2 linked regions of the Homo sapiens genome follow. The protein of the gene in region 2 purifies or fractionates together with the protein of the main gene of each other region. This does not show direct contact. Each region holds a gene or a part of one and is shown on either strand. Other genes may lie near its edges.

Evidence for each region. Proteins that work in one complex are often made in the same cells at the same time.
Region 1: the proteins of HNRNPA3 (region 2) and PLOD1 purify together in Homo sapiens (affinity purification with mass spectrometry; 2 studies listed by BioGRID and IntAct, with this or other methods). This does not show direct contact.

Annotation. Positions count from the first base shown.
Region 1 is NC_000001.11:11,958,580-11,966,338, forward strand, and holds part of PLOD1 (procollagen-lysine,2-oxoglutarate 5-dioxygenase 1 isoform 2 precursor), read left to right. Parts: coding exon 1-68; intron 69-2,066; coding exon 2,067-2,188; intron 2,189-4,952; coding exon 4,953-5,057; intron 5,058-5,595; coding exon 5,596-5,721; intron 5,722-6,064; coding exon 6,065-6,206; intron 6,207-6,900; coding exon 6,901-7,014; intron 7,015-7,671; coding exon 7,672-7,737; intron 7,738-7,759. UniProt on the Homo sapiens protein: Part of a complex composed of PLOD1, P3H3 and P3H4 that catalyzes hydroxylation of lysine residues in collagen alpha chains and is required for normal assembly and cross-linkling of collagen fibrils.
Region 2 is NC_000002.12:177,215,035-177,222,793, reverse strand, and holds part of HNRNPA3 (heterogeneous nuclear ribonucleoprotein A3), read right to left. Parts: intron 7,256-7,759; coding exon 7,133-7,255; intron 7,045-7,132; coding exon 6,898-7,044; intron 6,817-6,897; coding exon 6,606-6,816; intron 6,292-6,605; coding exon 6,202-6,291; intron 6,119-6,201; coding exon 6,023-6,118; intron 5,935-6,022; coding exon 5,854-5,934; intron 5,090-5,853; coding exon 4,949-5,089; intron 3,758-4,948; coding exon 3,635-3,757; intron 3,548-3,634; coding exon 3,495-3,547; 3' UTR 3,480-3,494; intron 3,387-3,479; 3' UTR 1-3,386. UniProt on the Homo sapiens protein: Plays a role in cytoplasmic trafficking of RNA. Binds to the cis-acting response element, A2RE. May be involved in pre-mRNA splicing.

The DNA.
Region 1 (7,759 bases), on a different chromosome or scaffold from region 2:
TGTTCTTCCAGCGGCTCCTGCGGCTCCACTACCCCCAGAAACACATGCGACTTTTCATCCACAACCACGTGAGTAACAGGCGCTCTGTGGGGTCGTCATGTGGCTTAGATCCAGGGCCCAGCTTCACAAGGTAGCCCGAGACCTCTGAGGGTCTCACCGAATCTAGCTTATCTGGGCCAAATGACAATCACCAGTGGACTGTGTCCCCAAATCACTGAGTTAACTTTGGAGTCAGACTGGGTGAGTTTGAATCCCAGCGCCGCTATTTTATTGGCTGTGTGACCTTGGGCACATTACTCAACCTCTCTGTGCTTTAGTTTCTCATCTATAAAATAGGCATAAAAGTCGGGCGCGGTGGCTCATGCCTGTAATCCCAGCACTTTGGGAGGCCCAGGTGGGCAGATTATCTGAGGTCGGGAGTTCGAGACTAGCCTGACCAACATGGTGAAACCCTGCCTCTACTAAAAATACAAAATTAAGCTGGGTGTGGTGGCAGATGCCTGTAATCCCAGCTACTCAGGAGGCTGAGGCAGGAGAATCGCTTGAACCTGGGAGGCAGAGGTTGCAGTGAGCCGAGATTGCGCCATTGCACTCCAGCCTGGACAACAAGAGCAAAACTCCGTCTCAAAAAAAATAAAAATAAATAAATAAATAAATAAAATAAAATAGGGATAATAATTGTGCAATCACACAGAATTGCTGCAAGGGCTAAGCAAGCTGACATGCGAAGTTCGTAAAAGGTGCCTGGTGCACAGGACGCATCTAGTTGCTTCTAACTGTTGTCATCTTCACTTCCATCCCTGTCACTGTTAATCCTTCCTACCTTCCTAATTGTACCTGGTGGCAGTCAAATTGGTTTTCTTTTCTTTTTTTTTTTTTTTGAGACAGAGTCTCGCTGTGTCACCCAGGCTGGAGTGCAGTGGCACGATCTCGGCTCACTGCAACCTCTGCCTCTTGGGTTCAAGCGATTCTCCTGCCTCAGCCTCCCAAGTAACTGAGACTACAGGCATGCGCCATCACAACTGGCTAATTTTTTGTATTTTTTTTTTTTTTTTTGAGACGGAGTCTTGCTCTGTTGCCCAGGCTGGAGTGCAATGGCGTGATCTCAGCTCAGTGCAACCTCTGCCTCCCAGGTTCAAGCCATTCTCCTGCCTCAGCCTCCCGAGTAGCTGGGATTACAGGCGCCTGCCACCGTGCCTGGCTAATTTTTTGTATTTTAGTAGAGATAGGGTTTCACTATGTTGGCCAGGATGGTCTCGATCTCCTGACCTCGTGATCTGCCTGCCTCCGCCTGCCAAAGTGCTGCGATTACAGCCATGAGCCACCGCACCCAGCTGGATGGTTGTTTTTCCTTTTTTTTTTTTTTTTGAGATGGAGTCTTGCTGTGTCTCCCAGGCTAGAGTGCAATGGTGCGATCTTGGCTCACTGCAACCTCCGCCTCCCAAGTTCAAGCAGTTCTCTGCCTCTGCAACCTCCGCCTCCCGGGTTCAAGCAGTTCTCTGCCTCAGCCTCCTCCCGAGTACCTGGAATTACAAGTGCCTGCCACCATGCCCGGCTAATTTTTGTATTTTTAGTAGAGACGTGGTTTCACCATCTTGGCCAGGCTAGTCTTGAACTCCTGACCTGGTGATCTACCCGCCTCGGCCTCCCAAAGTGCTGCGAATACAGGCGTGAGCCACTGTGCCTGGCCTGGACTGTTGTTTTTCAAAGCGAAGTTGAGGATCACCTGGCACATTTTGTAACAAAGTGGATCTCTGGGCCACACCCAGGAATCAACAATGTCTCTGGATGTGGGATCCTGAGCGTGGTGGCGGAGCTCTATCCTGATGACAGAGGCTCTTAGGAGGCCTGACCTGGTCAGAGGAGAATGGGCAAAGGATGGCCAGGGAAGGGTGTTCCTGGCACAGGGCTGGCATGGGCAAAGGTCTGGAGACAGGAAAGCAGATGGCCGGGGTGCCAGAGATGAAGGGGCACAGCCTGGCAGTGACAGGAGGTGCTACAGTCCCTGGGTGGAAGCTGTGTCCTCCTCCTCACCCCCGCATCCCCTTCCCCATCCCCAACCCCAGGAGCAGCACCACAAGGCTCAGGTGGAAGAGTTCCTGGCACAGCATGGCAGCGAGTACCAGTCTGTGAAGCTGGTGGGCCCTGAGGTGCGGATGGCGAATGCAGATGCCAGGAACATGGGCGCGTGAGTTGTGGGCCACAGTACTCTCCACTGACAGTGGGGGCAGGGGAGCTGTGGCTGTGGTAAGGAGCAGCAGGCTGAGTGACAGGAGTTCAGAAGGCTGTGTGTGCTCTAGCAAGTTCCTGCCCCTTTCTGGGCCTTGGAGTTTCCATCTGTCAAAAGGGGAAATAGCCTCTGTCCTGCCAACCCCCGGGGCTCCTGGGCAGGGCTGAGCCATGTTATTTGGGTTCAGGAAGCAAATCAGAGAAAGAGGAAGGACTGGGGGCAAAAGTAGACAAAGGCTGACTATTAGGGAGCCAACCTTGAATGTTTTACTTTATTATATATAAAAAAAAAAGGCCGAGAGCAGTGGCTCATGCCTGTAATCCCTGCACTTTGAGAGGCCAAAGTTGAAGGATTGCTTGAGGCCAGGAGTTCAAGAGCAGCCTGGGCAACATAGCGAGACCCTATCTCTTCAAAAATTAAAAAAAAATAGCCAAGTGTGGTGGCTTGAACCTGGGGTCCCAGCTACTGAAGAAGCTGAGGCAGGAGGACCTCTTGAGCCCGGGAAGTCGAGGTTGCATGAGCTATGATTGCACCACTGTGTTCCAGCCTGGGAAACAGAGCGAGACCTTGTCTCATAAAGCAAAACAAAAACAAAGAAAGAAGTAATTTGTGTTGCTTGTAGAAGAGTCAGACAGTCCAGATCAAAGGTTGGCAAACTTCCTGCTAAGGATTAGATCATAAATCTTTGCAAATTGGCTCTGCCGGCTCTGTGACAACCCTCAGCTCTGCCCTAGTAGCACAGAGGCTGCATTCCAGCAAAATTTCATTTATGGACACTGAAATTTGACTTTCATGTCATTTATTTTTTTTTCTTTTTGAGACTTGGTGTCACTCTTGTCATCCAGGCTGGAGTGCAGTGGCAGGATCATAGCTTACTGTAGCCTCAAACCCCTGGGTTCAAGTGATCCTCCTGCCTCAGCCCCCCAAGAAGCTGGGACTACAGGCATGTGCCATCACATCCAGTTAATTTTTAAATATTTATTTATTTATTTATTTAGAGACTGAGTCTCACTCCGTCACTCAGGCTGGAGCGCAGTGGCGCGATCTCGGCTCACTGCAACCTCCCCGTCCCAGGTTCAAGCCATTCTCTTGCCTCAGCCTCTCAAGTAGATGGGATTACAGGTGCTTGCCACCACACCTGGCTAATTTTTGTATTTTTAGTAGAGACGAGGTTTCACCATGTTTTCCAGGCCTGTCTCAAGCTCCCGAACTCAAGTGATCCGCCCGCCTTGGCCTCCCTAAGTGCTGGGATTACAGGTGTGAGCCACTGCGCCTGGTTAATTTATTTATTTTTATTTTTTGTAGAGACAGGATCTTGCTATGTTGCCCAGGCTGGTCTCAAACTCCTGGCTTGAAGTTATCCTCCCGTCTCAGCCTCCCAGAGTGCTGGGATTACAGGCATGAGCCACTGCACCTGGTGATGACCTTCACATAATTTTTACATCTTCTTTTGATTTTTGTTTTCTTTTTTTTTTTTTTTTTTTTGAGATGGAGTCTCGCTCTGTCACCCAGGCTGGAGTGCAATGGTGCAATATTGGCTCACTGCAAGCTCTGCCTCCCACGTTCACGCCATTCTCCTGTCTTAGCCTCCCGAGTAGCTGTGACTACAGGTGCCCACCACCATGCCCGGCTAATTTTTTGTATTTTTAGTAGAGACGGGGTTTCACCGTGTTAGCCAGGATGGTCTCGATCTCCTGACCTCGTGATCCATCCACCTCAGCCTCCCAAAGTGCTGGGATTACAGGCGTGAGCCACCACGCCCTGCCGATTTGTTTTTTTCTTGAAACAACTTAAAAACATAAAATCAGCCAAGTGCAGTGGCTGTAATCCCAGCACTTTGGGAGGCCAAGGATTGCTTGAGCTGGGGAAGTTGAGGCTGCAGTGAGCTATGATTGTGCATTCCAGCTTGGCTGACACAGTGAGACCCCCATCTCTAAAAAAGGAAAAAAGGCCGGGTGCAGTGGCTCGCATCTGTAATCCCAGCACTTTGGGAGGCCGAGGCGGGCAGATCACCTGAAGTCAGGAGTTCGAGACCAGCCTGGCCAACATGGTAAAACCCTGTCTCTACTAAAAATACAAAAATTAGCCTGGCATGGTGGTGCACGCCTCTAATCCCAGCTACTTGGGAGGCAGAGGCAGGAGAATCGCTTGAACCCGGGAGGTGGAGGTTGCAGTGAGCTGAGATTGTGCCATTGCATTCCAGCCTGGGCAACAGAGTGAGACTCGTTCTCAAAAAAATAAAATAAAATAAAAATAAAAAAAAGAAAAACATAAAGCTGTTCTTAGCCCATGAGCTGTACAAAACCAGGCAGGGCCAGAGTTTGACTCACAGACCCTCGTTTGCTGAGTCCTGTACCAGATAAACAAAAGTAACACAGATTTTTAAGGCTTTTGGTACAAGTTACCAAATTGCATTTCAGAAAGGCAGCCCCAGCTTACTCCCCACCCTGGGCCATGTAGGCACCTGTGGGCTGTGTTCTTCCCAGTACCAGGATTTTCAGGGCACTTGATACCAGTTGCCAACCTCTGGGCCTTGGGTGAGAGAGCCCAGCAGTCCAGGGGTTTGGGACTCAGAGTCGGGAGGAACCTTTGAGGCTGCTGGTGTGACCTCTCTAAAGCCCCTTGGCTGATATGTGGTGAAGCCAGACTGTGGTCACAGATGTGAGCAGCCACCAGTAGCTCCAGGATCAGGTGCACTGACCCTGTGTCCTCCTCCTTGCAGAGACCTGTGCCGGCAGGACCGCAGCTGCACCTACTACTTCAGCGTGGATGCTGACGTGGCCCTGACCGAGCCCAACAGCCTGCGGCTGCTGATCCAACAGAACAAGTGAGGCTGCTCCGTCTGCACCCAGCACTGCTCAGGACTGGCCTGGTCCTGGGGTGGCAGCCCTCCTTGCCTTCCTCCTCCTCCTCCTCATCCACCTCCTCTTCCTCCTCTTTTTCCTTCTCCTGCTCCTCTTTCTCCTCCTCGTCTTCCTCCTTGTCTTCCTCCTCCTCTTCCTCTTCCTCCTCTTCCTCCTTTTTCCTCCTCCTCCTCGTCTTCCTCATCCTCTTTCTCCTCCTCCTCTTCCTCCTCCTCCTTGGCCTCACCTATTACCCAGAGCTGTGGATCCCCAGCCTGATACCCCAGGTTCTGATAGAGAAGGTGTCCTGCCCTGTCTGCTCCTGGCTGCCCCATGGGAGGGAGCAGGTACCAGAAGAGCCAAACCCCCGACACCCCGGCCAAGGCACTGCCTGTCTCAGTGAGGTGCTTGGGGATCCCTGCGTGCAGGTTGAGGGGCACCTACCTCCCCCCATCCCTGGTTAGTGCTGTCTCCTACTCCCAGTGGGCAGCGACCTCCTACTGAGGTGCTCCCTTCCCTCAGGAACGTCATTGCCCCGCTGATGACCCGGCATGGGAGGCTGTGGTCGAACTTCTGGGGGGCTCTCAGTGCAGATGGCTACTATGCCCGTTCCGAGGACTACGTGGACATTGTGCAGGGGCGGCGTGTGTGAGTACCTGCAGGGTGGGGGTGGGTGGGGGACACCTTCATCTGGCTTCTGCCTGGGCTTGTGGGGCTCCCTCCCTATTATTCCTGTTCTTGTTACCCTCAAATTCCTGTTGAACCTGAAGCAAGGAAGACTTCAGTTAGACACACAGAAGGACTTCCTGACAAATAGGCCCATGTGTCCAGGGCGGGGGAATCAAATCAGCACAATTGTGCCCCCCTAGCCTGTGACTTCCCTTCTCACACCCAGACTCCAGGCTATGACTCCCCACCACCACCCTGTGACCCCCTCCATCTTCCCCACCACCAGCCTCTGACCCCCACCCGCTTTCTGTCTCTCCCACAGTGGTGTCTGGAATGTGCCCTATATTTCAAACATCTACTTGATCAAGGGCAGTGCCCTGCGGGGTGAGCTGCAGTCCTCAGATCTCTTCCACCACAGCAAGCTGGACCCCGACATGGCCTTCTGTGCCAACATCCGGCAGCAGGTCAGCCAGGAGCGGGCAGCACAGGACGCCCTCTGGATGGGGCAGGCGGGAAGGTGGGCCTCCAGCTCTGACCCTCATGGTGGGCCGCCTTGTCACCGTAGGCCTGGGAGCTCCAGAGATTCTAGCAGGGCATCTCGGAAGCCACCAGGGCCTGCTGGAGGAATGGGGGCCGTCGGGCACGAGGGCTGGTCCTCAGGGGTCTGCAGGGACCATTTTAGCTGACCTGGTTTTTATACCATCTATTTTATTTACATTTTTGGAATAGCCCAAAGAAAACGGAACTTTCCACCTAAAGGTACTCCAAGTGATGTGCCCGAGAGACACCTCACCCTGTCTCTGCGCCCCACCCCATATATTTTTGTGACTTTTTTTTTTTTTTTAAACATGCAGCAAGATGAAGTTTTCCCCTGTGACCAACATTTCAGGACCAGAACACGCTCCTTTTCTTTTACGCATTTTTTCTTTCATTCTGTGTTCAGTCCTCTGGGAAGACTTCCCTGATCACATTCTTAGTGTCAGGCCTGGGCTGGGCCCTGGGGACATAGCGGTGACTGCACTTGGTCTCTGATATTGGGAACTTCAGTTCGGCGGGTGGAGGAGGCTGCACTGTTGCCCGTCTGGGAGCGTGCAGGGGAGGGGTGAGGGCAGGGGAGGGGTGGGGGAGCGCCTCTTCCACCGGGCCTGTCCTCCCCAGGATGTGTTCATGTTCCTGACCAACCGGCACACCCTTGGCCATCTGCTCTCCCTAGACAGCTACCGCACCACCCACCTGCACAACGACCTCTGGGAGGTGTTCAGCAACCCCGAGGTGAGGCCAGGGTGGGCACATAGGGGCTGGGAGCAAAGGGGCCCAGTGATCCTGCAGTCGGAGGGACTTCCCTCTCAGAGTCTTACAACAGCCAGGACCCCTGTAGGCCACCTGCCACCCTCCCTTCACCCCAGGAGGCTATAGGGCAGGATTTGGGTAGGGAGAGAAGGGTGTCCAGAGAGGCAACACCATCTATTGGAGGAGGGACCAGGACTCAAGAGGCCTGGGTTTGTGGCCTAGATCTGCCATCATCTGGGACTTAGTTGAGCCTTCCAGCTTTGGGGACCTTAGTTATCTTAGCTCCAAAATGGGTATACTGTCCCAGCCTGTCTTACCCATGAGGGTGTTGTGATGATCAGAAGGGGAGACAGTTGTAACTGTTTCTAGACGTTGGGAGCTCACAGCTGATGGGTGTAAGCACATGCCTGCACACAGACATATACACACAAGCACACACATGTACATACATGTGCAAACACCACCTCCTATGGGCACACCTGTGCACCCAGACAACACACACGCACCCAGTGGGTGCAGGTGAACACCTGCCTCTGTCAAGCACGTACACCTTCACTCCCACTTTGAGGGGTCTGCTCTGAGCATCCCTGGCAGTTGAGCCAATGGTGAGGACCCTAGCCTGCTTCCCACTTCCCACAGGACTGGAAGGAGAAGTACATCCACCAGAACTACACCAAAGCCCTGGCAGGGAAGCTGGTGGAGACGGTAAGGGCCATGGACACCCTCT
Region 2 (7,759 bases):
TAACTTTTCTTCTTTGAGATGGGGTCACCCAGGCTGGAATACAGTGGGGCAGTCAGCTCACTGCAGCCTCGACTGCCTGATATCAAGGCAGCCTCCCAAATAGCTGGGACTACAGATGTGTATCACCAAGCCCAACTAATTTTTCTATTTTTTGTTGACAGGCTCTCACTATGTTGCCCAGGCTCGTCTCAAATTCCTGGACTTGGGATCCATCTGCCTCAGCCTCCCAAAGTGCTGGGATTACAGGCGTGAGCCACTGTGCCTGGCCCTGGTAACTTTTAATGTTCCTTTGAAGGTGTTTTCCTAGTATGAGGATGGGCAGCTTACTGAGTCTGTTGTGTGTCATGCTTACACACCAAAACGGTTTTCACAAAAGCTGAAACCACTTTACCAAAAATTGAGTTTACCCTGAAGACACAAAAAATGAATTGTATACACAAGGAGTCACAACTGACTTGATATGAATACTTATGGCTATTTCGCAGGGGAATTTTTAAAACTAAGGTTTAAAACGTGTAGGACATGGTACCAAGGTAGTTTTCAGTTGAAGAATTTTTCCAATGTGCCTACTAGAGAGGGACAAAGTTGTGAAATATGTAATGTAGACTTGCAGGGAAACAAATGGTGTCATCAGGTTTTACTGTCAACTACAAACCTTACCCAGCCAGAAACCTTCGTATTTTAGATGGTAGGAAAGACATTCCTCATTTAGGCAAGTAGGGTTCTCATTCAACCTGCAAATCAAAAAGATTACTCTTACCTTGCTTTACAAAAAATTACTCTTTAATTAGTGAAAAAATTCAAATTCAAGCCTTACCTAATGCTTATTGCCCTTCCTTGCAGGTCTAAATGCTAGACCTAGTGACTGTGGCAACTATCTCTCATTGATGTTCCAAAAGGCGAAGAGCTCCTTCCTGCTAGACTTTCTTCGATATTTCAGTTGTAATAAGCAGATTTAACTAGCTTTTGGAAAGTTGCTCACTATCATCATAGTATCTTATGCCTTCACTTCTCTGTAGTTGAAGCTCTTGCTGCTGCCTTGTCATTCTTTATTTATGCTGACTTGTCCAAACACAAAAGGCTGCTGAAGTCCTGTCTTAGTGAGTTTCTGTGATCCACACTGTGCTTAAAAAGCACATCTTAGGTCCTTTAAAGGTGGTTAAATCGCTCTCCTCATGGCTTACTTTTCCACACTGTTCACAAGAGCTAAGCTAATACAACTTATAAACAGGTCACATACACAGATTTCACCTGCTTATAGGTTGTAAACATCAACTTACTGTAAATGTTTTCACTATAATACTAGTTCCAGAACATAGAAAGTTGGTTAACAGTACAATTAACCTCATGCCATTAAAGGATACTGTCAAGGTTGTGTCAAACAATTTCACAAACATAAAACAGGAAATGTTAATCTCCCCCATTCCTTTAAACTTTATTTATATGAATAAAAGAACTTGAGACAATTTAGCTCAATTTTAATGTTTCCCAAGCATTATTTTGACCAGGTACCCAGGTTTAAGTTATGAACATTGACAGTGTCCATTATATAACCACACTTGAAGTTATTTAGGACTTAACCATTTTCTAATATTAGCCTATTTTCTACACTGCTTTTCACATATATGCCCATTAACAAATGGAATGTCTGTTACATTTATTGGTTTGTGAATGTTTCTGGAAAACTGCAGTATGTGTGAAGACCAATTTCCATGCTGGCATTGCATGCATCCAAATATTAATGCACAGAGGCACAGAATTAGAGCAACAAGAGAGCATATTCAAACACTAGCACACCCCATTCCCCTTTTTATTGCTTGTTTGCTTAGTACTTCTTAAAACAAAAGACTTGAATTCAACGTTCAACTACCAAAGAGAGTAACAGCAGGGCACATACTCAGGGCTCGAATGAAACTGTAAGCACTAGCTGGAGCAAAACAGTAGACATTGGTTTATATTAATATATGTATATATGACCTTATTAACTAAAACTCTTCTCAACCAGGGCCTTCCAAACAAATTGGTAACAACATGATTTATGTTGAAATATACACAAGAAATAACAGTGTGTTCTTTGGGAATTTAAGAACTCAGACTATCCAAATTTGAATTCAGGTCTGTAGGAAGTGAGAAGCCTGTACTAAGCAACTGTGCTACATTTCTGCTGCAGTTAGGTTATTTTGGACAATTATACCTGAACTATCCTTGGTTTCATCCAGCAAAATGTATAGAATACAAACAGGAAAGCATGCCAGCCAGTTAGGGGTTTAATAACACATGATTTTTATTCTCTTGCTCTGAAAACTTGTATCAAAAAAAAGAATTTAAAGTAACTCAAGATTTATGGGCCTCTTGTGCTTTAAATAAGAAAAAAAAGGTACCCACTAATTTGCTCAGATATAGCAGGCTTAATGGTTCTATATTTTCAAAAGTTTTTAAGAATGGTTTCTAACGTAGGAGAGGGAAAACATCCACCATCCCTTTTCAGAATTTAAATGGAGGGCAGTAAACATTCTTTACACCCAAAACCTATGGCAGCAGTTCAAATTTGACCAAGGTAAATGTAGAATAGAGATGTTCTAAACACAGCTAGGACTCAGCAAGTCTAACACACTAAAATCATATGATTACATTTTAAAAGAAAATGCACAAAAACCAAATAGAAATTTTGAGATTTTTTTTCATTTGAAGGTAATCTTAATGCTATTAAATTCACAAATGCTAATTTAAATACCCAATCCTATTTATCTAAAACACACATTGCAAACACACAAATTATCTATTCTCTCCACATGTCAGCGCCCATTCATATCATGGTTTGGAAATGGGGAGAATAGATTCCCCTTAAACTGCAAGTCAGCAGGTGTTTCTTTACAGTTAACTTTAGCAAAATTCATACAAAATAGTAATTAACAATGATCTTCTTTACTTGTTAACTCACAAGGAAACACCTTCGAAACTGCATTTTGTTAAAGTTTCTGTACTAAAATGTAGAAAAACTGAACTACACAAATATTGAAAAGTTAAAAATTCCTTAATTTTTTATTCCTGGTACCACTACCACAATTTACAGGGCAATATACCTGATGTAATGAAAAGAAAAAGAAAAAGACAAAGCTACAACAGATAAAAGACCTCAGGAATGTACATCTAATTGACACTACATTGCATTAATCAATAGCTGCACTTTTTGCAAACTGTGGCTATGACAGTCCTGAACAAGAAGGGTTTCCTGTTTAAGCTGCAGTAACTTTTCTGACTATGGATCATCGTTCCTTCTGTGGCAGATTTTTACAGTTCCTCTAATGCATTTGGGACGACTGTCTCAAAGTAACCTGCAGCTTTCCTGACAACTCCTCGCTCTCTCTCCTGCTAAGAACTGTAGCCTGTTGAATAATACAGGATAAAAAAATTATTACACTCAGTGAACAGTTCCACATATTCTTTTATCATCATAATAAAAATTTAAAGATACCTACCCTTTTCTGCTGTTTTTAGAACCTTCTGCTACCATATCCACCACTTCCACCACCAGATCCATAACCACCTGAAAATATACATAGTATTTTAAAAGAAGTATGCACATTTTTTAAATTAAAAAGGCTCTAAAGAATTGATTTAAGAAAGTACTTACCACCATAGGGACTGCCCGAGCTTCTTCCACCAAAACTGCCCCCTTTCATGGGTCCATAATTTGATTGCTGTTGTCCACTATAATTTCCAAAATCATTATAGTTCCCACCACCACCATAGTTACCTGAAATCAGAAAGGTTTTATGTGTGGTTTACCTACACAATCATCATTTTCCCCTTTTAACGTATGTAACTATTATCTTTTGAGAATTATGGTAGCATGCTTATACACATCACTGTGGTAGCACCACTTGGGGTAACTGATGTCAGGATATTAAAAGACCATCAACATTTTGTTTATATTAAATGCTGTCCTCTAGGCGCATGTTCTCTCTACCATTAACACCATTAAAATTGCCAGTGTTCCATTCACTATGATTCTGAAGCAGTATAACATTTAAAACAATGAGAAGGCATTCTAACTTGTTAAAACTTCCACTCATCTGTCATTGACATGTTAATTAGGTCCAATAAAACAGTGCATTCCTAAGAAAGCTTTTAACAGTATTGTGGCTTAATGACCTACATACACTAGCTTGCTTAAACGCTTCAACTACCTGTGACATATTATATTAAGACCCAAAGTACTTTGTTAACCTGGGCCCTAGATGGCAACCTGCTCACTTCAACACGTCTGGAGTATTCAAACAATTTATTCCCGGTTGTCCAGTTTAAAAGTACCAAGGAGTTAAGTAAAATTTTGGCAATAAATAAACTCCCAATCTTTTACACGTAAAACATGTACTGAATACTGGTAAATGTCCATTTTTTACTACTCAACTAAAAATTCAGTACATTTGGCTGAGTGCAGTGGCTCATGCCTGTAATCCCAGTACTTTGGGAGGCAGAAGCGGGCAGATCACAAGGTCAGGAGATCGAGACCATCCTGGCTAACATGGTGAAACCCCATCTCTACTAAAAATGCAAAAAAATTAACCGGGCGTGCTGGCATACGCCTGTAGTCCCAGCTACTAGGGAGGCTGAGGCAGGAGAATCGCATGAACCCGGGAGGCGGAGATTGCAATGAGCTGAGATCACGCCACTGCACTCCAGCCTGGGCAACAGAGCAAGACTCCATCTCAAAAAAAAAAAAAAAAAAAAAAAAAAAGAAAAAAGAGAGCTGAGTACATTTGTACATTTTACTAAATAACCAGCAAAGTCAAGAAAATTTGGTTTGAACTACCAACCATTTTAGTATTTTTCTTATAGAACATAAAATTTGATCAAACGCTTTTAACACTTTCCAAATATGTGTCATGGGAACTGTTAGCAACACTGAATATTTAACATTTAAATAAAACAAGTGAATGCTTACCACCGCCAAAATTTCCTCCTTCATTGTAACCATCATATCCTCCACCTCCACCATATCCACCACCTTGGTTTCCATATCCTGGTCCACCACCACCATAGCCCCCTCTACTACTATAACCAGGACCACCGCCATAGTTGCCACCTAAAAAAACAACAAATAACAAGACCACACAAAAACTTAAGTGTATAGTCACGTTATTCAATTCTGGTGTGTGTGTAAGAGACTGGGTCTTGCTCTGTTGCCCGGGCTCAAGTACAGTGGTGCAACCACAGCAATGCAGCCTTGAACTCCTGGGCTCAAGCCATTCTCCCACCTCAGTCTCCTGAGTAGCTAGACTATGGGCATGTGCCACCATGTTCCCCTATTTTATTTTTCTAGATATACGGTCTCCTTATGTTGCTCAGACTAGTCTCAAAATCCTCACCTCAAGCAACCCCTCTGCCTCAGCCTCCTGAATAGCTAGAATTACTCAACTCTGGTTTTATATTACATTTAAGCCACTGGCAAATAAGCCAATGAATTGATTTAGCACTCTGAAGCCTGGTAATACCTAATAATAATAGAGTATCAAGTATCTGCACTAGTAAGAATGAAAAATAAATGTGTAACCCATCTTCTGATAGTAAAAAAGAAAATCAGTTTTCATTTTACAAAATTTCACTAAGAAAAATATAGTCTCAGACTTAATAGAACAATTCTAGCTCAACCCCTACTACTTGCTGAAAAAGAGCAGCTAATGTCTCTCCAGGGGAAAAAGGGTTCCTGTTCTTCCATGTACAGTTTGGAAATACACCTTAACCATTTAGCCACTGAAGTTTTAACTAAAATTAGAAAAGTGTAATAAATAATTTTCAATAAGTAAAGAAAGTTAAAATATCAAACATCAATGAAAATAAGCCACCTACCATCACCTCCAAATCCATTATATCCACCATCACCTCCTCCATAACTACCTCTGCTGCCACCACCTCCACCACCATAGCCTCCTGAGGAAAAACAAGAAATGAATTAAAATAATATATTCAACTTACCAAAATGTCAGGTATCCATGTACTTAGAAGATAAACAGCCTACCTCTTCCACCAAAGTTTCCACCACGGCCAAAATTACCTCCACCACCTCCAAAGTTCCCTCCGCGACCCATAAAATTGCCAGATCCACCTCCACGACCTTTAATACAGGCAAGGGAGATTTTTAAGAACCTTACAAACACCACTCATATCCACTGTATACATGTGTATGGTCCTACTCACCTCTCTGTGATCCAGCAGACTGCATCTCTTGTTTAGAAAGGGCCTTTTTCACTTCACAATTATGCCCATTAATAGTGTGGTATTTCTGAACTAAATTTTTTTTCAATCAAACAAAACAAAAAGTTATTTTATGTTTGGAAAAGCACATATATGAGATACCCTCTGTCATTATGTAACCCATTAAGACATAATCAGGTAGTGACTCTGGTAATGAAGGAGCATTCTGAGATGTTTATGTTTATTTCTTGATCTGGATACTGATTACACAGGCAGACACTATGAAAATTGACTATACACTATAAATGCCATTACACGCAACAGAAAATTACAATTTAGCAAATTTAGTTCAAAACAGAAAAACCAGTTCTACTTTCTCATTCAAGTTACCATAAATTGCTACTTACCAACAATTTTATCAACTGTATCATGATCATCAAAAGTTACAAAAGCAAATCCTCTCTTTTTTCCACTCTGCCTGTCTTCCATAACTTCTATGGTTTCAATCTTGCCATACTTTTCAAAGTAGTCTCTCAAATTATATTCTTCTGTATCTTCTTTAATACCACCAACAAAAATTTTCTTCACTGTTAGATGGGCACCAGGCTTTACAGAATCCTACAAATAAAGTAATATATTAAGTCAAGAAACAAACTTTCACAACAATTTCACATATTACACAATGTATTATTAAAATACCTCTCTAGAAACAGCTCTCTTTGGTTCCACTACACGCCCATCAACCTTGTGTGGTCGAGCACACATTGCTGCATCCACCTCTTCAACACAAGAATAAGTCACAAAACCAAAGCCCCTGGAACGTTTTGTTTGGGGGTCTCTCATTACCTACAAAATAAAAAGTTTTATAACGTTGAAAACACCTCCACCGGTTCTCTACACCCCTTAGAACCCTTCTGTTCTCTTAGTAACTTACCACACAATCTGTGAGTGTGCCCCATTTCTCAAAATGTTCTCGTAAACTATCATCTGTAGTTTCAAAGCTCAGACCACCAATAAACAGTTTTCTCAACTGCTCTGGTTCCTTTGGATCATGGCCCTGAGAGAAAGAACCAATACTCTTAAGTTACCTTACAGTAGATGAATTAAGATGCACGAAGAGCCTTTAATGTACGGTAAGTAATAAAATCAACATCAAATTCCTGTGACAGTTAACACTTTGTCCAGTTAAAACTTTGACCAGACACCGGCGCGATGTCTCATGCCTGTAATCCCAACACTTTGGGAGGCCGAGGCAGATGGATTACCTGAGGTCAGGAGTTCGAGACCAGCCTGGCCAACACGGCGAAACCCCATCTCTACTAAAAACACAAAAATTAGCTGGGCGTGGTGGCGGGCGTCTGTAATCCCAGCTACTCGAGAAAGGAAAATCGCTTAAACCCAGGAGGCGGAGGTTGCGGTGAGCCAAGATCATGTCATTACACTCCAGCCTGGGCCATAGGAGCGAAAACTCCGTCTCAAAAAAACAAAACAACAAAAACTTTGACCAGAAATAAGACTTCAACTGTTAAAGGGGCTAACTTATGTCAAGGAAACCTATAAC